Linked DNA regions of Homo sapiens. The protein of the gene in region 5 purifies or fractionates together with the protein of the main gene of each other region. This does not show direct contact. Each region holds a gene or a part of one and is shown on either strand. Other genes may lie near its edges.

Region 1 (3,500 bases), on a different chromosome or scaffold from region 5:
TGGATTCTTTGCAATTAGAGCGGAGTGAATGACCACCTGAGGTCAGGAGTTTGAGACCAGCCTGGCCAACATGGTGAAACCCCATCTCTACTAAAAATACAAAAATTAATCAGGCGTGGTAGCGCATGCCTGTAATCCCAGCTACTTGGGAGGCTGAGGCAGGAGAATCGCTTGAACCCAGGAGGCGGAGGTTGCAGTGAGCTGAGATTGCGCCACGCACTCCAGCCTGGGTGACAAGAGTGAAACTCTGTCTCAAAAAAAAAAAAAAAAAAAAAGAAAGCCACAAAATTAATGCGGCAAACCGGCCAGGTGCGGTGGCTCACGCCTGTAATCCCAGCACTTTGGGAGGTCGAGGCAGGTGGATCACCTGAGGTCAGGAGTTCGAGACCAGCCTGGCCAACATGGTGAAACCCCGTCTCTACTAAAAATATAAAAAATTAGCTGGGCGTGATGGCGCCCACCTGTAGTCCCAGCTACTCAGGAGGCTGAGACACGAGAATCGCTTGAACCTGGGAGGCAGAGGTTGCAGTGAGCCTATATCGTGCCACTGCACTCCAGCTTGGGCGACAGAGCATCTCAAAAAAAAAAAATTCAGTAAACAGTAAAAGAAAAAAGTTAAAAAAATTATGACAGTCTTAATCTTTGTTTTTTTTTTCGTTTTTTTTTTTGAGATGGAGTCTCGCTCTGTCGCCAGGCTGTAGTGCAGTGGTGCGATCTCGGCTCACTGCAGCCTCCGCTTCCTGGGTTCAAGCGATTCTCCTGCCTCAGCCTACCGAGTAGCTAGGACTAAAGGCGTGTGCCACCACGCCCAGCTAATTTTTGTATTTTTAGTAGAGATGGGGTTTCACCATGTTGGCCAGGATGGTCTCAATCTCTTTACCTCATGATCCGTCCGCCTTGGCCTCCCAAAGTGCTGCGATTACAGGCGTGAGCTACCACGCCCGGCCCTTAATTTTAATTGTTAAAATTTGATAAAGAAGGTGGGTAGTAGACATATCAAATGATCATTATATTATTTTCTGTGTGTTTGAAATATTTCACAGTATTTTAAGATGAACCTAAAATAAAACATTAAAGAAACTCCATTAAACTAATGAGCCTATAAAAATATATATCCCACTGGGCATCTGTAATGAAAACATGCTAATACTCAGCAAGCTTACTGATTTTTTTTTTTAAGCCGTTAAATTTCAGGCATCAGATTTCAGTCTTCTCTTTCCAAGCACATAGTACAAGCAGGCTCTTTCATCCCACACTCTTTTTTTTTTTCCGAGACGGAGTCTCACTTTGTTGCCCAGGCTGGCTCGATCTCAGCTCACTGCAACCTCTACCTCCTGGGTTCAAGCAATTCTCCTGCCTCTGCCTCCCGAGTACTACAGGCATGCTGAGAATACAGGCATGTGACACTGTGCCCGGCTAATTTTTGTGTTTTCGGTAGAGATGGGGTTTCACCATGTTGGCCAGGCTGGTTTCAAACTCCTGACCTCAGGTGACCTGCCCACCTCAGCCTCCCGAAGTGCTGGGATTATAGGCATAAGCCACTGCGCCCAGCCCAAATTCGTATGTTATACAGAATTTTCTGATTTATAAATGTGGGCAACTGATCGTAAAAAATTGTAAAAAACACTGTGACCTCTACAGAATCTGGACCCATAAATCTGTTTCTACATCTGGAAGGGAACTTGAGAGTCTTCCACGTTCAATGCCTTCATTTGACAGATGGGGAAAGTGAATCCCAAAATGTTTTGCATTTTTTGTCTTTTATGCAAGAAAGTCTTCCCTACCTTTGATCCGTAAGGCTGTTCATCTCTATATTCTTCTGTAAATTGTATGGTTTTGCTTTTTCACATTTAGGTTTATTGACAGTGCGTATTTTTTTCTGCTTAGTTTATCTTTATTTTTTATTTATTTATTCATTTTTGATTTTTGCACTGTCGCCTGGGCTGGAGTGCAATGGCGTGATCTCTGCTTACTGCAACTTCCACCTCCTGGGTTCAAGTGATTCGTCTGGCTCAGCCTCCCGAGTAGCTGGGATTACAGGCGCCCGCCACCATGCCTGGCTAATTTTTTTGTATTTTTAGTGGAGATGGGGGTTTCGCTATGTTGGCCAGGCTGGTCTCGAACTCCTGACCTCGTGATCCACCTGCCTCGGCCTCCCAAAGCATTGGGATTACAGGCGTGAGCCACCGCGTCCGCCCTATTTTATCTTTAATATGATCAGCTAGTATTTGTGTTACATATTCTTTTTCTACCATTATGTTTGTCATAAAATTATGCTCTATAAATTCATAAGGACAGGACATGCTTTTGTTATGCTCTGATTTTGGGTCAGAATATTGTAGAAAATGAAATTTTTGAATTCATTTTAGTGTAAATATTTTACAGATTTCTGCTCTTCTACATTATTTTGTCTCATTTGCCTTTAAAGATGAGTAGTACATGTATTTGACTATCCTTGAAAAATATTTTGCACACTTTTTATAGCAGTCATATTAGAATCTAGTTAGGCATTTGTGTATCTCTATCTAGTTTGTTTGAGAGCTGCTAAGTAAACCAGCTAGAATAATAGTGTGTAGATTGAAATAGCTCAAACATTCTGTATCAAAATTATAAGAATTTTAAGTTATTTTAATAAGCATTTAACAGTATCATGCTGTGTAAATAAGACCAAGCTGTGGCTTGGAGAGTAAACATTAAAAGTTTTTTTTTTTTTTTTTTTTTAAGATGGATTCTCACTCTGCCCCCCAGGCTGAAGTGCATTGGTGCAGTCTCAGCTCACTGCAACCTCTGCCTCCCGGGTTCAAGCAATTCTCTGCCTTAATCTCCCGAGTAGCTGGGATTACAGGCGCCCACCACTACACCTGGCTAATTTTTTATTTTATTTTATTTTTAGTAGAGATGGAGTTTCTTCATTTTGGCCAAGCTGGTCTTGAACTCCTGACCTTGTAATCTACCCGCCTCAGCCTCCCAAAGTGCTGGGATTACAGATGTGAGCCACTGCAACTGGCCTTTTTTATTTTTTTAAGGTGGAGTCTCTCTGTGTTGCCCAAGCTGGAGTGTAGAGGTGCGCTCTCAGCGTACTGCAACTTCCGCCTGCTGGGTTTAAGCGATTCTCCTGCCTCAGCCTCCCTAGTAGCTGGGATTACAGGTATGCGCCACCATGCCTAGCTAATTTTTGTATTTTTAGTAGAGACAGGTTTTGCCCTGTTGGCCAGGCTGGTCTTGAACTCCTGACCTCAGGTGATCCGCCCACCTCAGCCTCCCAGAGTGCTGGGATTATAGGCGTGAACCACCGCCCCTGGCCTAACATTAGAATCTTTCACAAATCTGGTCAGTAAATGCCTTTTTTTTTTTTTTTTTGAGACGGAGTCTTGCTCTGTCACCCAGGCTGGAGTGCAGTGGCTCCATGTCAGCTCACTGCAGCCTCCATCTCCCGGGTTCAAGCTGTTCCTCTGCCTCAGCCTCCCTAGTGCTGGGATTACAGGCATGTGCCACCACGC
Region 2 (3,500 bases), on a different chromosome or scaffold from region 5:
ATCTCCTGACCTTGTGATCCACTCGCCTCGGCCTCCTAAAGTGCTGGGATTACAGGCGTGAGCCACCATGCCTGGCCCATAATCTTAATATATTGTGATTTATTAAGATGTATATGGTTGAGAGTTATGAATGACATAGTTGACAGATAACTTGAGCAGGAAGAATAATACCTCATCTGAACTGGGAAAGGAGGAGGAATGGGTCAATATGTTTATGGTAAATTTCCAGAGAGTGCTGGAAGTGGGAAGTTGAAGGAGTTCAAACCAGATTTATTTTCTTTTTAGTGTAGGAGTGAGATCTTAATACATAGGCCGGAGGTATATTTGGAGAGCTAATTGATGTTGGTGTATAAGAAGGTTATAGTTGGTTCTTTTCTTAGAGGCTGACTTTTTTTTTTATATCAATGATTTAACAGGTTTATCATGACAGTGAGGAAGGTCAGAGATACATACAGTTTTATAAGTTAGGGGATTTCCCCTATGTTTCCATATTGGACCCACGGACAGGTAAGATTTATATCAGCACGCAGCTTTTAACCTATTACTTGTCTTTCAGTTACCTAAATGATTGATCTTTAATATTTGACTGGATCTGTTTTCAGAATTGCAGTAATTTAGGTGAAGGTTTCGTTTTTTTCCCTTTATAATTATTTAAACATCTATTGATGTATGTATTTAGGACATCTTTTTCTGGCAACATTGGGAGATGGTAGTATTTTATGTTTGTGCAGTTCTGTTCTTTTGAAGAATAACTGATATGTTCATCTTACCTTTTTTAAGGGATTTTTTAAAAGTTTTTTTACCAGCTGGGCGTGGTGGCTCATGCCTGTAATCCCAGCACTTTGGGAGGCCGAGGTGGGCGGATCATGAGGTCAGGCGATCCAGACCATCCTGGCTAACACGGTGAAACCCCATCTCTACTAAAAATACAAAAAAAATTAGCCGGGCATGGTGGCGGGCACCTGTAGTCCCAGCTGCTTGGGAGGCTGAGGCAGGAGAATGGCCTGAACCCGGGAGGTGGAGGTTGCAGTGAGCCGAGATCGCGCCACTGCACTCCAGCCTGGGCAACAGAGTGAGACTCCATCTCAAAAAAACAAAACAAGACAAAAGTTTTTTTTATCATTAAAATATTAAGATTGCCCAGATACTAGTTGTAATCCCACCTGAGAAGCAGAGGGTGGAGCTGGTTTTATTAATTGATGGTGTTTTATATAGATATTGCTTTGTCTGAATCTCTTCTTCCTAAATGGCAGTAAGTGATAGCAGCAGATAAGATAGTTGCCCTATCATTACGGGTGGGAATCTGTTAGGTGAGTATAATTGATGTGACTTCTAGGTTATGAAGACACTATGTAGCATAAGCTGGTGGAGAGGATATGTCTTTACAGTACACTTTATGCATGTGCTGAAAGAGATACTTAATGAGAATGTTCAGAAAGATCCTAGATATTATATTTACAGATCCTGGTTTTTAATGTATGCATATGCTGAAAGAGATAATGAGAATGTTCAGAAAGATTCTAGATATTACCTTTATAGATCCTGGTTTTTAATCTATGCATATGCTGAAAGAGATACTTAATAAGAATGTTCAGAAAGATTCTAGATATTACCTTTATAGATCCAGGTTTTTAATCTATGCATATGCTGAAAGAGATACTTAATGAGAGTGTTCAGAAGGATTCTAGGTATTATATTTATAGATCCTGGAGAATGTTCAGAAGGATTCTAGATATTATATTTATTTATAGATCTTGGTTTTTAATCCTTAGGTCAGAAGCTAGTAGAATGGCACCAGTTAGATGTATCTTCTTTCTTGGACCAAGTGACGGGATTTCTGGGTGAACATGGACAACTGGATGGACTTTCTAGCAGTCCCCCCAAAAAATGTGCCCGTTCAGTAAGTATAATTAGGAGGTGGTGATGGGAAAATAAATGTAATTGGTCATAAGCATCTTATATAAAATGTTCGATGTTAAGATGGTAAAGATAATCTAACTAGTGGACAACTATCACTGTGGCTATAGCATCTTAGATATCCTCCTTATATTTTGATAATTTCCCACATGAGAGTTCCATCTTCTTGGTGAAATCATGATACTCATACTCCTGCCAGTCTGTCTTGCAGCTAGAGTGCAGGCAGATGCCCCAGGATCTGGATTTAGAAGGAAGCAATGTGAATAGGTTGGGCAGGAGGACTGACCTGGCAAGCCTAGTGGTAAAGGTGTCTACTTCCTGAGGGGCAGCTCTGGGAGGGCTTCTGATATCCAGGTCTAAATAGCAGTGAAAGTGGTTGGTTTTTTTGTGTGTTTTGTTTTTTGTTTTGGAGTGGGATCTTGCTGTTTTGCCCAGACTGTCCTAGAACTCCTGGGCTGAAGCAGCCTTCTCACCTCAACTGCCCGAATAGCTAGGACTACAGGTACATGCCACCACAGCCGGCTGGAAGTGGTGTTTTTTGTTTTTGCTGAAACAACTGTCATGGTATAGTTGAGCATTTTTATTGGTTAATATAGCTTTAGGGCCTGGCTCTCTGGCCCTCCTAGAATTTACTTCTATACTTAATTTCTAGAATATACTATTACTAGGTAGACATGTTTGATAATTGGTATCAAGATTGGTTGCAAATAAGAGACTGAACTTGCAAAGATACAGCAATCTCACATTGGTTTTCATGGCTGTTTGGCTTTGATAGCAGTAGGGATAAAAATAGTTTTGTTTTGTTGGTTTTTTTTTTTTCCTTTTTTTGAGCCAGAGTCTTGTTCTGTTGCTAGGGCTAGAGGGCAGTGGTGTGATCTTGGCTCACTGCAACCTTCGCCTCCTGGGTTCAAGCGATTCTCCTGCCTTGGCCTCCCAAGTAGCTGGGATTACAGACGTACACCACTGCATCTGGCTAATTTTTGTAGTTTTAGTAGAGATGGGGTTTCGCCTTGTTGGGCAGGCTGGTTTCAAACTGCTGACTTCAAGTGATCCGCCCTTCTCGGCCTCCCAAAGTGCTGGGATTACAGGCGTGAGCTAACGCGCCCGTCCTGTTTTTTTCTTTGGGCAGGATCTTGTTCCATTTCTCAGGCTGCAGTGCAGTGGTGTGATCATGGCTCGCTACAGCCTCCACCTCTTGGGCTCAAGCGATCCTTCCACCTCAGCCTCCTAAGTAGCTGGGACCACAGATGTGCATCACCATGCCAGCTAAGCTGTTAAAGTTTTGTAGAGACGGAGGCCTCCGTATGTTGTCTAGGCTGGTCTCAAACTGGCCTCAAGCAATCCTCCCGCCTCAGCCTCCCAAAATGTTGGGATTCTGGGTGTGAGCACCACACCTAGCAACATTTTTATTGTATTGTATTGTATTTATTGTATTGTATTGTATTTTTTGAGATGTGGTCTCACACTGTTGCCCAGGCTGGACTGCAGTGGCATGATATTAACTCACTGTAGTCTTTGCAGCCTTGAGAGAACTTTAAAAAAAAAAAAAACTTGCTAGCCTTGAACTCCTGGGCTCAGTCAAT
Region 3 (3,500 bases), about 30 Mb from region 5:
CGTGTGTGTGTGTATGTGTGAGTGTGATGAGGTCTCACTATTTTACCTGGGCTGGTCTTGAACTCCTGAGCTCAAGCAATCCTCCCGCCTTAGCCTCCTGAGGAGCTGGAATTACAGGCACATACTGTCACACCTAGTTATGATATTTTTAATACATAAATCACAGAATTTTAGACCTAGAATAGATTTTAAGAGATTGTCTAAAAACTATTGTTTTATAGATGAAGAAACTGAGGCCCAAGGAAGTATCTTTACCAAAGAGACTTAATCATGTAATTAATGGCAGAACCTGGGGTAATTATTCTTTCTACTTCTCACTGTATTGTTACAAACTATAATATTACATTCTTTCCTTTCTTTAATTTTTTTTTTTTTTTTGAGACAGAGTTTTGCTCTTGTTGCCCAGGCTGGAGTGCCATGGCACGATCTTGGCTCGCTGCAACCTCCACCTCCCAGGTTCAAGTGATTCTCCTGCCTCAGCCTCCTGAGTAGCTGGGATTACAGGCATGCGCCATCATGCCCAGCTAATTTTTTGTATTTTTAGTAGAGATGGGGTTTCTCTATGTTGGTCAGGCTGGTCTTGAACTCCTGACCTCGTGATCCACCCGCCTCAGCCTCCCAAAGTGCTGGGATTACAGGTGTGAGCCACTGCAGCCAGCCTCCTTTCTTCTGTTCTCCCTTGCATTGGAAATATTCTTATTTTTGCTAATTAAAAAAAAATTAGGGCCTGGCATGGTGGCTCATGCCTGTAATCCCAATGCTTTGGGAGGCTAAGGTGGGAGGATCAGTTGAGGCCAGCAGTTCAAGACCAGCCTGGGCAACATAGAGACCCCCATCTCGTGTGTGTGTGTGTGTGTGTGTGTGTGTGTGTGTACCTATATATGTATGTATTTATATATATTTGGTGTATGAAAGCTCCCTCCCCTTATAATTTTGCAACTCTTTCAATAGTTTAGTCTTTATGTATATTTAAAATTCTTTTCTTTTATTTCGAGACAGGGTCTCTCTGTTGCCCCACCTGAAATGCAGTGGTGTGATCTCGGCTCACTGCAACCTCTGCCTCCCGTGCTCAAGTGATCCTCTCACCTCAGCCTTGAGAGTAGCTGGGACTACAGGCATGTGCCACCATGCCCAGCTAATTTTTGTATTTTTTGTAGGGACAAGGTTTCACTATGTTGCCCAGGATGGTCTCGAACTCCTGAGCTCAAGTGATCCCCCTGCCTCAGCCTTCCAGAGTCCTGGGATTAAGAAGTGAGCCACCGTGCCCAGCCAGTTGTGTTTATTAAAAAAAAAAAATGCACAGCATTTTTAAAAATAGCAACACAACATTCCAGTGTATGGAAGAACCATTATTTCTTCAATCCTGTTACTATCGATAGACACATAGATTGCTTTTGACTTTTTGCTATTAGGAATGATGCTACTGTAAACCTGCTTGTAACTACATTCATGTGTTTAAATAAATTTCTGGCCTGATCTCTACTAAAAATACAAAAATTAGCCAGGCATGGTGGCACATGCCTATGGTCCCAGCTACTCGGGAGGCTGAGGCAGGAGAATCGCTTGAACCCAGGAAGGGGAGGTTGCAGGCAGTGAGCCGAGGCCGCGCCATTGCACTCCAGCCTAGGCGACAGAGCGAGACTCCGTCTCCAATAAATAAATAAATAAATAAATAAAGTTGAATTTCTGAGTCTGAGAATAGGCATTTAACATTTCAAGAAATACAGAGAGAGAGACAGACAGAGAGAGAGAGAGATTGTTAGGGCCCACTTCCATCATTATAGCCTAACTGTATTGTCAGGGCTTGACTTATGAAACCTTTCCCAAGGTCTCCTCCATCTGCCTGCACATTCCCCTGCCTCACTGGATTATAGTTTACTTTTAGTTAGCTATTCTTAAGATTTATTTCTCTAAATGAAGCAGTAAATGTTGATTGAAATCTGTATTTTTAAAAAGAGATGAGGTCATGTTTAAGTACCGTTAGTCAATTTTTGTTGATTATATGTTTACCTGGGAAAACCCTGTAAATGAAATGCAGATTACCTTTTACTTATTGGTTTAAAGTCCATCATAGGAATGAATGGATTCAGTGTTCCCTATTGGCAGGTAAGAGCAGTAAGGAAGGGGTAGAAGGAATTAATACTTATTATGTGCTTATATGGCTGATGCTGAACTAGGTGAATGTATGTGATGTTTAATTTTCACAGCAACTCTAAGATGTAGGTATAGTCATCCACTTTTACTAGATAAAGAAACTGAGGCTCATAAAATTTGCCTAATAACCACTGATAATAAGTGACAAAGCCCAAGTCTTTGCTCAGTTTAAGGACCCAATTGTGTAAATAAGTAGTGGTTAGGCCCCTCAACTAGTGCACAGAAATTTCCTAAATGAGGAGTGCAGCCATATTATTTTGATGACATGAGCTGTCCTATGTACCTAACCATCATTTCTAATGTTTGCTTATTGTATATAATTCACAAATTTCCAAAAGGATCTAGGGTGGTTTTAAAAAAATACTTATGTGGAGACATAGAATTCAAGTATGATTGCTACAAATGTGTTTTTTCCCCAGTCTCAAGAGGAACACCTTCTTTTCTGAATACCCTGTACATCTGGGAACACACTTTCCTATCCTGTCTGCTACTCCCTCTGTGGGGAGCTGGCAGGGAAGCAAGGATTCTCCCCTGTGGGAAAGGCCTGAGCCCCACCCACAGCAGTGAATCATCTCAGTCCTTGCTGCGGGTTGCTGCTTAAAGTTTGCCACACACCTCCTGGAGCTTACCTTCACGAATTCACCCAGGGTGTTATTCCTCCAATAGCTCTCTTATATAAGATCACAAAAAGTCTTTTCTTAATAAAAAGGTTGTCTTCTTTGATATTATGCATCTATGCTTTAAAAAAAAAAGTTTTTCTTTTTAAATGTTCATCTTCCCACCCAGGCCGTCACCGATGGGTTGTATATACTACTGAAATGAATGGCAAAAACACATTCTGGGATGTGGATGGAAGCATGGTGCCTCCTGAATGGTAAGCTAAGACAACATTTTATTTGTCTTTCTTTTTTTTCTTTTTTGAGACAGGGTCTCACTCTGTCACCCAGGCTGGAGTGCAGTGACATGATCATGACTCATGTCAGCTTTGACCTCCCAGGCTCAAGTGATCCTCCCACATCAGCCTCCCTAGTAGCTGGGACTACAGGCCCATGCCATCTCACCCGGATAATTTTTGTTTTGTTTTTAAATTTGTTTGTTTGTTTCTTTTTTGAGACAGAGTCTCATTCTGTCGCCCAGGCTGGAGTGCAGTGGTACAAACTTGGCTCACTGCAACCTCCACCTCCTAGGTTCAAGCGATTCTCCTGTCTTAGCCTCCCGAGTAGCTGGGACTACAGGTGTGAGCCACCACGCCTGGCTAATTTTGTATTTTTAGTACAGACAGGTTTTCACTGTGTTGGCCAGGCTGGTCTCGAACTCCTGACCTCAGGTGATCCATCCACCTCGGC
Region 4 (3,500 bases), on a different chromosome or scaffold from region 5:
TGTTGCCGAGGCTGGAGTACAGTGGCATGATCTTGGCTCAGTGCAACTTCCGCCTCCCAGGTTCAAGTGATTCTCTTGACTCAGCCTCCTGAGTAGCTGGGATTACAGGCGTGCACCACCACACCTGGCTAATTTTTGTGTTTTTAGTAGAGACAGGGTTTCACCATGTTTGTCAGGCTGGTCTCAAACTCCTGACCTCAGGTGATCCACCTGCCTCAGCCTCCCGAAGTGCCGGGATTGCAGGCATGGGCCACCACTCCCGGGCAGTCATCCAGATCTTTAGAGTATAATCTTACACGGCAAGAATAGTTACTCCATGCTGTCAGCTGCTGGGTTACTTCAACACCAACATTCTGAACCGTACCATTTAGATGTTTGTTTTCAACTGGTATATTTAATATCACTAATATTTCTGTGTGTGAGAAGATATCGGTCAGGAAAAAGTATACCAGTAACATGTTTTTAGAAGATATTTTGGGTCTAGAATTTATAGCTTCAGCTAATCTCAAAACTCCTTCATCTTCAACTGCTAAAATGGTTGACAGTTTATAGCAATCTTCTTTTTTTTTTTTTTTTTTTTTTGGTTGAGATGGAGTCTTACTCTGTCGCCCAGGCTGGAGTGCAGTGGCGCAATCTCGGCTCACTGCAACCTCCATCTCCAGGTTCAAGCGATTCTCTTGACTCGGCCTCCCAAGTAGCTGGGACTACAGGCGTGCACCACCACACCTGGCTAATTTTTTATTTTTAGTAGAGATGGGGTTTCAACATGTTGGCCAGGCTGGTCTCAAACTCCTGAACTCAGGTGATCCACCTGCCTCAGCTTCCCAAAGTGCTGGGATTACAAGCGTGAGCCACCACGCTGGGCCTATAGCAATCATTTTGACAAGCTTTTATGTTTAAATTTTTAGCATCGATAGCAGTGTTGTCCAGTAGAACTCTGCAGTGAAGGGAATGTTTTATATCTGATCATGTGGCTACTTAGCACTTCAGATGTGGCTAGAGTAACTGAGGAACCAAAATTTTAATTTTGTCTAATTTTAAATAATTTAAATGCAAGTAGCCATATGTGGCTAGTAGTTACCATATTGGACAGCACAGCTCTGTAGACTCAACTGTAAGGAGTGTTCTTTCTTTCTTTCTTTCTTTTTTTAAGACAGTCTCACTCTGTTGCCAAGCTGGAATGCAATGGTGTGATTATACATCACTACAGCCTCAAACTGTGGGGTTCAAACGATCCTATGTCCTCAGCCTCCTGAGTAGCTGGGAATCCAGGCACATGTCACCACACCTGGCTAAAGAAATTTTCTTAGAAAGTATTTTTTAAAAGGAATTGCATTAAAGTTTAATGAGTGAAAACAAAGTTTATTTGGGGGGTATCCATTTTTCTTTGTCATATTCTATTTTTTAAATTTTACCATTATTTTTATTAGATATAGCATCTCATTATATTGCCCAGGCTAATCTCCTGGCCTCAAGCAATCCTCCTGTCCTGGCCTCCCATAGCACTGGAATTACAAGCATGAGCCCCATGCCCAGCCATATTTTTTTTTTTTTTGAATCTGGTTCTCAACTCTCCTCAACTCTATTGTCCAGACTAGAGTATGAGTATAGTGGCGTGATCATGGCTCACTGTAGCCTAGCCTGAAACTGCTGGCCTCAAGTGATCATCCTGCCTCAGCCTCTAGAATAGCTAGGATTACAGGCACACCACCGCAGCTGAGTTTTTTATCTTCTAGTTGTTATCTTTTTAGGGACAGGACCTTGCTGTGTTGCTCAGCCTGGTCCCAGACTCCTGGCCTCAAATAATCCTCCCACCTTGGCCTCCCAAAGTACTGGGACAATAGGCATGAGCCATCACACCTGGCCACATATTTTATTTTTAAAAGCAATTTATTGAGATATAATTTATACCCATTAAATGAATTTTTAAAAATCTCCGGATTAATCCTGTCAAAGTGAGAGGATATCTTGGAAATACAGATGAGAAAAAGAATATAGCCATCTCAGTATCATGGTATCAGAAGAAATTTCTTCAGGCCTGGTGCAAAATATGGAAACCTTATTTCCCTTTACCCTCTCCCATTTGGAATGCAATTGTTATCATTTTCTTCTACAGTTAGAACCATATCAGGCAGTGTTACAATTTTTGCTTTTGCTTCAACTGTCAAACATAATTTAGAAAACTCAAGAGGGAAAGAAAAGCTTATTGCTCTGTATTTACTCTTTTTCTCTATTTATTTATTTATTTTTTTGAGATGGAGCCTCATTCTGTCGCCCAGGCTAGAGTGCAGTGGCGTGATCTCAGCTCACTGCAACCTCCACCTCCTGGGTTCAAGTGATTCTCATGCCTCAGCCTCCTGAGTAGCTGGGACTACAGGTGCACGCCACTATGCCTGGCTAATTCTTTCATTTTTTATAGAGACAGGACCTCGCTATGTTGCCCAGGCTGGTCTTGAACTCTGACTTCAGGTGATCTGCCCACTTTAGCCTCCCAAAGTGCTGGGATTACAGGTGTGAGCCACCACGCTCAGCCTCTATATTTATTCTTAGTTTGCATACTGATTTTCTTTCCTTTCTAACAGTCCACGATGTCTTCTCTTATTTTTTCATTTCTGTTTAGAAAACTTCCTTTAGCTATTTCTAATGCAATAGAAAAAATTCTATTATTCAGTCCTTTAGTTGGCTTACTTGAAACAGGATCACTGCAGAGATTTCCCCATCTGTGCAAGAATTAGACAATGTGAGAATTAATTGTTAAACAGGAAATATTTATTAGATTCCTATTGTGTTACATATTTTTACATTTTATTTAAAATATGTATTGCCAGGAGCGGTGGCTCACGCCTGTAATCCCAGCACTTTAGGAGGCTGAGGCGGGTTAATCACCTGAGGTCAGGAGTTCGAGAGCAGCCTGGGCAACATGGCAAAACCCCGTCCCTACTAAAACTACAAAAATTAGCTGGATGTAGTGGCTCACGCCTGTAATCCCCAGCACTTTGGAAGGCCAAGGCAGGCAGATCACCTAAAGTCACTTTGGCAAATAATATAAACAGTTCACAGAAAAGGACATACATATGGCCTTTTAAAAATATAAAAAGATGCCAGGCACAGTGGCTCACGTCTAATCCCAGCACTTTGGGAGGCTGAGGCAGGCAGATCACAAGGTCAGGAGATTGAGACCATCCTGGCTAACACAGTGAAACCCCATGTCTACTAAAAATACAAAAAATTAGCTGGGCATGGTGGCGGGCGCCTGTAGTCCCAGCTACTCGGGAGGCTGAGGCAGGACAATGGTGTGAACCTGGGAGGCAGAGCTGGCAGTGAGCCGAGATTGCGCCACTGCACTCCAGCGTGGTCAACAGAGTGAGACTCTGTCTCAAAAAAAAAAAAAAAGTATTAAAAACAAATGCACTTGTATACTTTAAAAGATTTAATTTTTATTTTATGTGACTTATAGCTCAATAAAACTTATTTTTAAAATATGTGCATGATTTCTTTTT
Region 5 (3,500 bases):
TGTTTGGGTCTTTAACATTGAACTATTTTCCTTTCTTGCTTATTTTAGATTTTTTCTGGCCCTTCACTTACAGCGTACGATCTATTTTACATCTCTTTAGTACCTCTCATACCCAGTGAATCTGCTAATCTGAATTCACAGTGAATCTGCGAATCTGAATTCACTTGTATGCTGTAACAATAATAGGCTGTTGTGAGAATTAAATAAACAGTAACTGCAGTATAATAAACATTCAACAAAAATTATTTGAAAATTTTCAAACCTTACAGCTTTTGTGTGTTTTGTATCTATAAATGCCTGAAACCTTCTTTAGAACAAAGATGATAACTTTATTGTTTTAATGTTCTTCCATGAGCACTTAGGTCAGCATCATGATATATGGGTTAAAAGAGGTTTGAAGTCCTTGGTTTTCTGAAAGATCTTTGATTCTTAACTCAGAGGCTCCTACAATTATTGTGCTTATTAGATTAAGTACACACCATAAACACAGAACTTCAAAGGTAGAAGAGAAATACTGGATTCTCTTCATTCCTCTCAATAAGGGGTTAATGCAATTCTCTGCTTCCTTTCTCTATGTCTACCCTAAAAGGAGTGCCAGAACAAAGGCCTTATGAGTTGTCCCATTTTGCTGTTTAAATGATGTCTTCATCTCATCTGGAAGGAACAATCCTAATATTCAGCCAAGTCCATTGGAAGCAAGTTAAATGACCTCCAGCACTCCTCTCTTGATAATATTTGGGTGTCTTTTATGCTTCTCCATGAAAAGAAAATTTACTGCATGGCAAACCATGCCAGTGAATTATTCTCCTGAATAGACCCATTCTTTGTTTGAATACAAAGCAACCTTTTCATGTGTTTCCCAAATAATTACTCTGTTTGCCTTTACCTGAGTTTCCTCTAGTGTCATTTAATGGAACAAAATGTACTTTTTCCTAATAGAGGTTTTAGACTCTCCAGTATACCATTTCTCTATTACTGTTCATGCTCTGAGTTCCTTTTATCTAAATAATAAATCTACAATTTGTGGAAATTGTTCCCAAACTTTAAAGCTAGTTCTCTGTTCTCTTTGGCATAGAATTTAGATTTTATTTGCTCTCAAATAAGTTTTTCCAATGGGGAGATTTGGGTCTAAGAATATTTATTATAAATAAAGTAAAAACAGAAAGTCCTGTCTAGAAGTTAGAGTATGGCGTAAATATATTGTTCATCAGCCATTTCTTGTGGCTTTTAATTTAAGCCCTTAGGTTAAATGAAGGATATATTTACTCTGTAGTTCATAATACTATATTTGTGGAAATATTTTCACAGTATTGATGGTTTTAGATTTCTTTACAATGGCAAAGTAAAACTTTGAAAGAAGTTAGTGTCAACATCAGAGATAAAAGGTTAGTCAATTTCTAAATGGTTTTCAAGTTAAAATTTTTCTTTTTTCTTTTCTTTTTTTTTTATCTTAAAACTTCCCAGTGTGAAGTTAGAATTTTTAAAGAGGCAATGAAAACCACAGACAAAATCTTTTTTAAAGAAATGTACCAAGTATCCAGGAAATTACATGTTTCAGAGATTCATGCACCATTAGTTATCATCTTCAGCAAGAAAGAAAACGATTTACTCTGGTAACTGCCTTTTGCTGATAAGATCCAAGAAAGAAACCAGTTCCTGCCTTATGAACAGTCTTATTAGAATAAGACAAATGTTTACTGATTCTCAAAGAAATAAAAGGGACACTTTTGTGTAAAGTGTGTTATTGATTAGATCAGAGTATTGGGTGTCCAGAGAAATCTATTAAGCCTAGCTGCATCATGTGAAGCAGTCGTGCCACTGCTCATTATCAACTCTCTGATGCTAAGTATAACAGATTCCATGCTTCTCAGTCTACCTTCTGTGGTCATACCTGAAGGCTCTGTGAAGTTATGTTTCTGGCCTCCGAATGGAATTTTTTCAGTTCCATATTCTTTGAACATCATCAAAACTTTTTGGAAGAGGCGTTCAGAAGCTATTTTATGCAAATTGCTGCACTTTCAAGGAGACATGGAAGAGATTTAAATAAAATTGTTGTTTAAACACAGCCACGTTAAATAGATGTTCAAGAAGAATATTTTATCTATGATCAGAGAATTATGGAAAAAGAATCATCAGCCACGGAACTGAAAGGAGGGTACATGATTAATGCTTTTTAAAAAAAATACATAAATGCACTTATTTCATGAAAAGATATAAATTCACATATAGAAAATCTGAAAAAGAGAGAAAAGAAAAAAAATCACCATCAATTCTACACAATCATTGTTTTAATCTTGGTGTCTAGTTTTTCTTATTAACTAAAAGTTTATTTTTTAAATTAAATTATATTTGTTAAAATTATTGTAGTTTTACAAATGTAATTTTTAAATATATCACACATAGAAAGGTATATTTAATTTATAATGTGACAAAGCTCAAAGATATAATTATGGGGTAGCAAATGATAACTTATATGGTATTTGACCTTTTAATTTCAAAGTTTTTTGCATTCTATCCATTCATTTCTTTTCCATCATTATATGTACTGTTAAGTCTTTAGAATGTTTTGGCACATGGTGTGCATTACACCCAAGTTTATTGTGTGATTGTTGTTACTGTACTTAGTAATAGAAATAATTCAAATGTTATTCATTATAAGGGCATCTATCACTAAATCCTTTCATAGTGCCAAATAAAATACGTTTTAGAACAGTATGTTAAATGATACATATTATCTAGTAAAATGTAGAGGGAAGTGCAGGTGGTAGAAGTCATTTAAAACACCTGGATTCATGAAAACAAATCCACTTTTAATAGTCATTGGTTTTCCTGCAGGGACAGAAATACTGTTCTCTCTTTCAAAGGAATTCATTCCAAATTGAATTACCTTTCCTGACAACACTCCTTTCATCAGACTTCTTATAAACCTCTGCCTTCCCTTAAACAGGGTAAGAATTACCTGCCTTATGACCCTTTATTCTCAGGGCCATCCTAGTGAATCAATTTTATAAATTAACTTAAACAATGTTGTTACCCACCTAGGGAACTGTTCACAGTGGTCTTTTGGAAACTTGACCACAACTCACAGGAGGGGATGCAGTGGGAATTTGGTCCATGAAGGTTATCCTTTTGGCTTAGTGAAACCAGGAAGTGTTTCTCAATTAACTTCAAGTATGGACAAGTTCCCACAGCATCTGAGACTACCCCTTGGCATTATTATCCTCATGTGAAGTCCTTAATGCCTGCTGCATGTGATACTGTGATTTAAAGCAGCAAATTGTTTGAATGTCTACCATGTATCTCTTAATATCTTTCATGTTGTAAAATAAATTTTATATTGCTTGTAGGGTCATATTCTTTTGCAACCTCCTTCTAGCCCATGTTAATGTAATTTCTTTAATTAATAGATAGAATGCAAAAATTAATATAATTAATTACATTGAATTAATGTAGTTCTGGGTGTGGAACTGAATGGATAGAATGCAAAAAGTTAATTAATT
Region 6 (3,500 bases), on a different chromosome or scaffold from region 5:
TAAAATTAAGCACTCACTCAACAGCACATAAAGAGCAGGTTATTTTTTTTTTGAGATGGAGTCTCGCTCTGTCACCAGGCTGGAGTGCAGTGGCACCATCTCAGCTCACTGCAACTTCCACCTCCCCGGTTCCAGCGATTCTCCCACCTCAACCTCCCAGTTAGCTGAGACTACAGGAATGCGCCACCACACCCAGCTAATTTTTGTATTTTTAGTAGAGACAGGGTTTCAACATGTTGGCCAGGATGGTCTCAATCTCTTTTTTTTTTTTTTTTGAGACAGAGTCTTGCTCTGTTGCCCAGGCTGGAGTGCAATGGTGCGACCTCAGCTCACTGCAACCTCCGCCTCCCAGGTTCAAGCGATTCTCCTGCCTCAGCCTCCTGAGTAGCTGGGATTACAGAGACCTACCACCACGCCTGGCTAATTTTTGTATTTTTAGTAGAGACAGGGTTTCACCATGTTGGCCAGGTTGGTCTCGAACTCCTGACCTCAGGTGATCTGCCTGCCTTGGCCTCCCAAAGTGCTGGGATTACAAGTGTGAGCCACTGTGCCTGGCCTCGATTTCTTGACCTCTTGATCTGCCTGCCTCAGCCTCCCAAAGTGCTTGGATTACAGGCATAAGCCAACGCGCCTGGCCTAAAGAGCAGGTTTTAAAACACAGACTGTATGGCATTTCATGTGCTTCCTACCTTGACTGGGACCACTGCAGTTTGCACCATGTTCCTGAATCGACCAACTGAGGGATCCACATCCTCTGCAAAAAGAGAAGAGGGCAGGGTTGGGTTGGTACTTTACTGGGAGGAATAAGGGCACAGGAGTCACTGCAAACAAACCATCACAACAACTCATATTAAAATTGTAAAACACAGAGAGTGCTTCCTGGGTGCTGGGCATTGTGCTAAATCCTCACAAAGACCCTGTGATGTAGGTACTACCACAATCAACATTTAGTAGATGAGAAAGCAAACTGAGGCTTGGAGGAGCAAAGGGACTGGCCCAGTTGCTCTGGTGGAGAGTACAGGAGCCAGGACTTGAGTCCAAGTAGTTCAAAACAGGCCTGTGATCTGCACCACTGTGCTGTGCTGCCCTCCCCCAAGTTCTTTCCCATTCTGTATAACTCCCTCTTTTGAGGGGAAAGAAAAGAAGAGTAGACATTATCAGTTCCATATCAGTGACAAAACAATGACATGTCAAGAGGTCACATATCAAATGCCTTGCTAATGCCTGCTTATTAGCAAAAAAACGGATTTTGGTTTCAAAGCCAGGGCTTCAAACTGAACCTGGCCTTTTGACTTGAACGGCCTGAACTGTATATAAGCAAGACTTGCACTAAAGGCTCTGATGCCCCCGTCTACACGGGAAATGAAGAGCAAGATACTGTCCCACCCTTGAATTCACAGTCACAGAGCCAGATAGGCTACAACACAGAGGTGCTTCAAGAGAAGTGCACAACAGTGTTTCTGGAGCACAGAGGGGATGACTGGGCTGGATCACCAAGGATGGTGGAGTTTTCTCACTGAAGGTTGAATGTGAGTGGAAACATGCAGAGGCACCAACTTATGTACCACTACTAGAGAAAACTACTCCAAGCCCCAGTTAACTTAATATAGTGATAGAGAAGGAATCATTTCCCTAATAGATGTTGTCATCTTATTTTCAATGAGGTTGCTTGTTATTGAAAGAAACACTCCTGGCCGGGTGCGGTGGCTCACGCCTGTAATCCCAGCACTTTGGGAGGCCGAGGTGGGCAGATCATGAGGTCAGGAGGTCGAAACCATCCTGGCTAACATGGTGAAACTCCGTCTCTACTAAAAAATACAAAAAATTAGCTGGGTGTGGTGGCGTGCACCTGTAGTCCCAGCTACTCGGGACGCTGAGGCAGGAGAATGGCGTGAACCCGGGAGGTGGAGCTTGCAGTGAGCCGAGATCACGCCACTGCACTCCAGCCTGGGCGACAGAAGGAGACTCCGTCTCAAAAAAAAAAAAAAAAAAAAAAAAGAAAGAAAGAAAGAAAGAAAAACTCCCAGAAATCCCTTTGGAAAACAAAGAATCACTATTTAATTTGAGTAATTATAATTAGCCCCTGGTTTATTTGCTTTAAGTCTGGATTTTTTCACATATTAGGATCCATGCCTTTAAAGAGGACACTCTGGTATTATATTCACCATCAATCTATGCTCAATGAACAAATGGCTTCTATATAGACGAGAAAGGACAAAAATATCCAAGCTGATTAAGAAAGAGACAATGTCTCTAAAAAGGTATCCCAAACTTCTCTCATGGCCCCTCCGGTTTCAGAGCCTGTGCTCTTAACCACTATGCTATACTGCCTGAACACATTTCCCTAAGAAAGCTCGAGGGCACTAATTTTCTTTCTTTCTTTTTTTTTTTTGAAACGGAGTCTTGCTCTGTCGCCCAGGCTGGAGTGCAGTGGCACCATCTCGGCTCACTGCAAGCTCCGCCTCCTGGGTTCACGCCATTCTCCTGCCTCAACCTCCCAAGTAGCTGGGACTACAGGCGCCCGCCACCACACCCAGCTAATTTTTTATATTTTTAGTAGAGATGGGGTTTCACCGTGTTAGCCAGCATGGTCTTGATCTCCTGATCTCGTGATCCGCCCACCTCGGCCTCCCAAAGTGCTGGGATTATAGGGGTGAGCCACCGTGCCCGGCCGAGGGCACTAATTTTCAGTGAGAAAAACAGAGCAGATCAGATCCTCACTCCTGAAAGAGACTTAAGAAATTTGTCAGGCCGGGCATGGTGGCTCACGCCTGTAATCCCAGCACTTTAGGAGGCCGAGGCGGGCGGATCACGAGGTCAGGAGATCGAGACCATCCTGCCTAACACGGTGAAACCCCGTCTCTACTAAAAAAAAAAAAAAAAAAAAAAAAAAAAAATTAGTCGGGCATGGTGGCGGGCGCCTGTAGTCCCAGCTACTCGGGAGGCTGAGGCAGGAAAATGGCGTGAACCCAGGAGGCGGAGGTTGCAGTGAACTGAGATCGTGCCACTGCACTCCAGCACTCCAGCCTGGGTGACAGAGCGAGACTCTGTCTCAAAAAAAAAAAAAAAAAAAAAAAAGAAATTTGTCTAGTCCAGTGGTTCCCAAATTGCTGGCTGTTGTACAAACAGGAGCTCATTAAAAAATATAAATTTTGGGCTGGGCGCGGTAGCTCACGCCTGTAATCCTAGCACTTTGGGAGGTTGAGGGCAGATCACCTGAGGTCAGGAGTTCAAAACCAGCCTGGCCAACATGGTGAAACCCCGTCTCTACTAAAAATACAAAAAAATTAGCCAGGTGTGGTGGCAGAAGCCTATAATTCCAGCTACTTGGGAGGCTGAGGCAGGAGAATCACTTGAACCCAGGAGGCAGAGGTTGCATGAGCCGAGATTGCGTCACTGCACTCCAGCCTGGGTGACAGAACGAGACTCCGTCTCAAAAAATAAATAAATAAAAATAAAAAATAAAAAATAAAAATTTCAGCCAGGCATGGGGACTCATG
Region 7 (3,500 bases), on a different chromosome or scaffold from region 5:
CTGGGGTTGTATGTCTTGTGTTGCTTGCCTTGGCCCCTGCCCTCTGAGATGCTCCCTCCCCACCTCCCACTCCCTCTGCTTCCTTTCCCTGGTAGGAAAGAGGCAGGCAGAGGTGTCTACACTGGCTGTCTCTGGGACAAGCACCAAAGTGTATGCTCCATATCAGTGGATCTGCAGACACAGCATGGCGTTTTGATTGGGAGCAAGGGGTGGACGTAGGTGTTGCCTTGTGGTCCCTGCCCTGGAGTTGCCTGTGCAGACAACAGGTTGGAGGAACAAGCCAGCAGGACATGAGGCTGCTGTCAGTGTGCTGCCCTGCTCTGCCTGTGTGGCCTCCCTCTCCCCTCCAGGTGCAAAGTGTGGCCCCTCTGCATCCCTGAGAGGCCAGGCTCCCCTATATCCACAGAAGGTCATCTCTACCCATTATGGGCAGGAAGGAGCCGGTGGCTGAAAGAGAAGCACATCACGCTGATTGGAGGAGGGGTTTCCTGCTGTGAAGTAGCAGAAGATCAAACCGATTTTACTAGACCATTTCTTTTCCTCCATAGCCCTAGAGGCCTTGGTTTAGATGTGTTTTACTAAAAGTTACCTGGTTAGGGTTTGAATGATGGTGTTTTATTGTCAGGAGAAAGACCATCGCTCAGTACCTCTTGGAGGTGCTGGGTGTAAACTCCAGGATGAGCCCCGCTAGGTGTACACAGGAGGAGTGGATTTCTGTTTCCTGGAGGCCCCGCCCGTCAGTCATGGAAAGGCCCGTGTGGCCTGTCCAGCGGAGGAGGTCGGAGTGGAGCAGTGCGTTCCCGGCAGGGCTGGCCACCTGCTACTGCCTTTGCTGGTGGCGTGGAAAGCAGGTGTTTCCCTCTCGGAAAGATGGGGCCGGCAGAGCACGCACCAGGGCCCCAGCACAACACGCCTCCCCTGGCCTGCCAGCCCGTTCCCTGGAAACATGTCCTTGTGGAGGCCGTGGATGGACATTGGGGTTGCTAATTGCATTTACTTCCATTTCCCACCCCGTCTGGCCCCGCCTGGCCCCTCCTGACTTTTTTTCCCCTTTCCCCATGGTCCTAATGTGTGCAGGAAACACGGTCTGAAAAGATAAGGTGGGCTGGTGCAGGCCCAAAGCAGTCAGGATGCAGCCAGGCTCTGTCAGGGACCCCTGAGGACTGCCTCAGGGACGAGAAGGGGGCCGGGTTGGGGTCTCTTGGGCTGCCTTTGCCTGTGTGCTAATCTGAGTGACTTTAAAGATACCGTTCTCCTGTGTCAGCAGAGAAAGGTGGCCTCTGGGGGCTGCGTTCATTCTTGAGTGCTGCCTGTGTGACTGATAAGGGCATTCCAAAGGGCAGCTGGGTCCGGCAGGGGTGGTGCCCTTGGCTCCAGGGGCTGCCGACCAGTTGCGTGGTCCCGGCAGTGCCTCATGCCGAGTCATCCCCCGGCGGGGCCTCTGTGGGCAGCCCGGCCAGTTCGTTCGTTCCCCACCATGGTCACTAGGCAACTGTGAACTAAGCGGGAGTTTTTGTGTCTCAATCTCCCCATGAAAGCTGTATCAGCATCAGCAGGGTAGTGTTTCTACTTGCAGTAGCAGATCAGAGACCTGGCCAGCTTTGTGTCTGACTTTCTGCTGGCCACTGCCACATCAGTGAGTTCCATTGAGTTATCACAGCAGCTGCATCTAGGAGGAAGCTCCTGCCTTTCAGAGGAGGAAGCAGAGGCTTAGGAAAGTTAAGTAATTGGCCTAAGATGACAGGCAGGCCAGCAAGTGTCGGCGCTAGGATTTGAACCCAGGTAGGGGCTGTGCTCCTACTGCGGCGGAGCTGAGAAGGGTGCCTTGGCATGAAGGCTGTGGGCGAAGGAGTGCCGGGAGCTTGGGTCAGACAGACCTTTGCCCCTGTTGGGTCATTACTGTGGACACACAGTAATGTGTGTCCCTCCTGAGACACACAGAGGCCACCCTCTGTTTCTCTCCCACCCAAGGTTAGACTCCAGTCCTGAAATGGACCTGAGGTCTGGGGCTTTGAACAGCAGTGCTGGTATTGTGTTCCCTGTTCCCAGCCATAAATGATCCCTTGGGGTCTCCAGGGAGCCTGGTGGCCTGGGCTCTCGTTTGCCCTCTGGTGGTCTGCAGGCTCCCTCTAAGCCTGGGAGCTGTCCTGATCCTTAGTGGTTGGATGGGGCCTCCCTGCCCACACTCCCACCTGTGTGTCCTGAGCCCTCCGGCCCAGAGGCAGGCCTGCGCCGTGGGCCGCCCCCACTTCCTGCCGACACCTCCTGAGATGGAGATGCCGCTGCCAGCAGCACCCCCAGGCTGAGGTTTCACCAGGGTGCTCCGAAGACCATCAAATGCTCCCAGGGGCTGCCCAAAGGCCATGAGCCAGGCCAGGTGCTGTGTCCCTCTTGGATTCAGCATCCATAGCACAAGTAGATCAGAAGGTTCAAGTCCCACGTTAGTACTTGGGGAGCTGGGTGGCTCTAGGGAGTTGCTGTAGTCCCTGGGAGCTGCATCAGTCCATCAGGAAACACCATAGCCTCTCCAGTTATTGTAGATTACCAGAATTTACATGTTAAGCTCTTGCCCTAGTGCCTGGTGCACAGTTAAGTGTTCAAGTGTCAGCTGGTTCATAGTCAAGAGATTGAAAAGCCCAGGGCTTTCCAGACGGTGATCTGAGTAACATCCTGGGGAGTATCCTCGGGGAAGTGCTGACTCAGCCGGGGTTTCCCGTTGGGTTCCAGGCCCTCCTTTGCTCCCAGCTCCAGGCCTCCCAAAACCCTCTGCTCGCCCCACCTGGCTGTGGTCTCCCTCTGTGGCCCAGCAGGCCAGGATGCCAAGACAGCTTTTGGCCTCAGCCTCTGCTGGGGGCGTGCAGGCTCTGCCACAGAGGAGGCGTACCAGGCGCTGCCCGCGCTCAGCACCTGTTCCCCAGGCTGCGCACTGGCGGTGGGCTGGGGAGCAGCTGGCCGAGCGCCTGCAAACATTCCGTTTATATTTGGGGGATGAGGCATTCTTCATGCATTTGAAGTCCTTGCCTACACACCCATCAGAATCTGAGCTTCTTAAGCCCAAAATACAAATCCTGCGAGTAAATAAGAGCAAACATTTACTCCTGCTCGCAGTGTGCCAGGCTCACTCCATCCTCCCGCGGCCCTCCAAGCTGGAAACCTACTATCTTCGTGTTACAGACTGAGAAGCTGGGAACCGAGGCTCTGAGAGGTCAGAGACCTGCTGGGTCACACAGCTCGTTGTTGAGTAGAAGGTTCAGGATGGAAATGTGGGCCTGATTCCAGAGTTCCTCTGCCCCCTCCCGCCCCTCTTTTGTTGCTTCTGTCTGATTTGCTGGGGTCTACGTTGTGTGTAGTGAAGTCCACCCTCCTCAGGTGCCCTGCTGTACAAAGCATTCCTGGGCTGCCGCCACCATGACAGAGAGTATTCCCATCGCCTGAAAGTTCCCGTGCCCCTCATAGTCACTCCTGGTCCCAGGCAGCCCACTGACCTTTGTCTCTAACTT

What was found.
Region 1: the proteins of WIF1 (region 5) and NT5C2 purify together in Homo sapiens (affinity purification with mass spectrometry; one large-scale study listed by BioGRID and IntAct). This does not show direct contact.
Region 2: the proteins of WIF1 (region 5) and UBXN7 purify together in Homo sapiens (affinity purification with mass spectrometry; one large-scale study listed by BioGRID and IntAct). This does not show direct contact.
Region 3: the proteins of WIF1 (region 5) and NDUFA12 purify together in Homo sapiens (affinity purification with mass spectrometry; one large-scale study listed by BioGRID and IntAct). This does not show direct contact.
Region 4: the proteins of WIF1 (region 5) and PNPT1 purify together in Homo sapiens (affinity purification with mass spectrometry; one large-scale study listed by BioGRID and IntAct). This does not show direct contact.
Region 6: the proteins of WIF1 (region 5) and PPP1R8 purify together in Homo sapiens (affinity purification with mass spectrometry; one large-scale study listed by BioGRID and IntAct). This does not show direct contact.
Region 7: the proteins of WIF1 (region 5) and EHD1 purify together in Homo sapiens (affinity purification with mass spectrometry; one large-scale study listed by BioGRID and IntAct). This does not show direct contact.

Annotation. Positions count from the first base shown.
Region 1 is NC_000010.11:103,186,773-103,190,272, reverse strand, and holds part of NT5C2 (cytosolic purine 5'-nucleotidase), read left to right. Parts: intron 1-3,026; exon of another isoform or gene 3,027-3,148; intron 3,149-3,500. UniProt on the Homo sapiens protein: Broad specificity cytosolic 5'-nucleotidase that catalyzes the dephosphorylation of 6-hydroxypurine nucleoside 5'-monophosphates.
Region 2 is NC_000003.12:196,366,428-196,369,927, reverse strand, and holds part of UBXN7 (UBX domain-containing protein 7), read left to right. Parts: intron 1-416; coding exon 417-507; intron 508-1,772; coding exon 1,773-1,900; intron 1,901-3,500. UniProt on the Homo sapiens protein: Ubiquitin-binding adapter that links a subset of NEDD8-associated cullin ring ligases (CRLs) to the segregase VCP/p97, to regulate turnover of their ubiquitination substrates.
Region 3 is NC_000012.12:94,993,698-94,997,197, reverse strand, and holds part of NDUFA12 (NADH dehydrogenase [ubiquinone] 1 alpha subcomplex subunit 12), read left to right. Parts: intron 1-2,940; coding exon 2,941-3,028; intron 3,029-3,500. UniProt on the Homo sapiens protein: Accessory subunit of the mitochondrial membrane respiratory chain NADH dehydrogenase (Complex I), that is believed not to be involved in catalysis. Complex I functions in the transfer of electrons from NADH to the respiratory chain.
Region 4 is NC_000002.12:55,673,345-55,676,844, reverse strand, and holds part of PNPT1 (polyribonucleotide nucleotidyltransferase 1, mitochondrial precursor), read left to right. Parts: intron 1-3,500. UniProt on the Homo sapiens protein: RNA-binding protein implicated in numerous RNA metabolic processes. Catalyzes the phosphorolysis of single-stranded polyribonucleotides processively in the 3'-to-5' direction. Mitochondrial intermembrane factor with RNA-processing exoribonulease activity.
Region 5 is NC_000012.12:65,079,806-65,083,305, reverse strand, and holds part of WIF1 (wnt inhibitory factor 1 precursor), read left to right. Parts: intron 1-3,500. UniProt on the Homo sapiens protein: Binds to WNT proteins and inhibits their activities. May be involved in mesoderm segmentation.
Region 6 is NC_000001.11:27,844,282-27,847,781, reverse strand, and holds part of PPP1R8 (nuclear inhibitor of protein phosphatase 1), read right to left. Parts: intron 755-3,500; coding exon 690-754; intron 1-689. UniProt on the Homo sapiens protein: Inhibitor subunit of the major nuclear protein phosphatase-1 (PP-1). It has RNA-binding activity but does not cleave RNA and may target PP-1 to RNA-associated substrates. May also be involved in pre-mRNA splicing.
Region 7 is NC_000011.10:64,868,622-64,872,121, reverse strand, and holds part of EHD1 (EH domain-containing protein 1), read left to right. Parts: intron 1-3,500. UniProt on the Homo sapiens protein: ATP- and membrane-binding protein that controls membrane reorganization/tubulation upon ATP hydrolysis. In vitro causes vesiculation of endocytic membranes. Acts in early endocytic membrane fusion and membrane trafficking of recycling endosomes.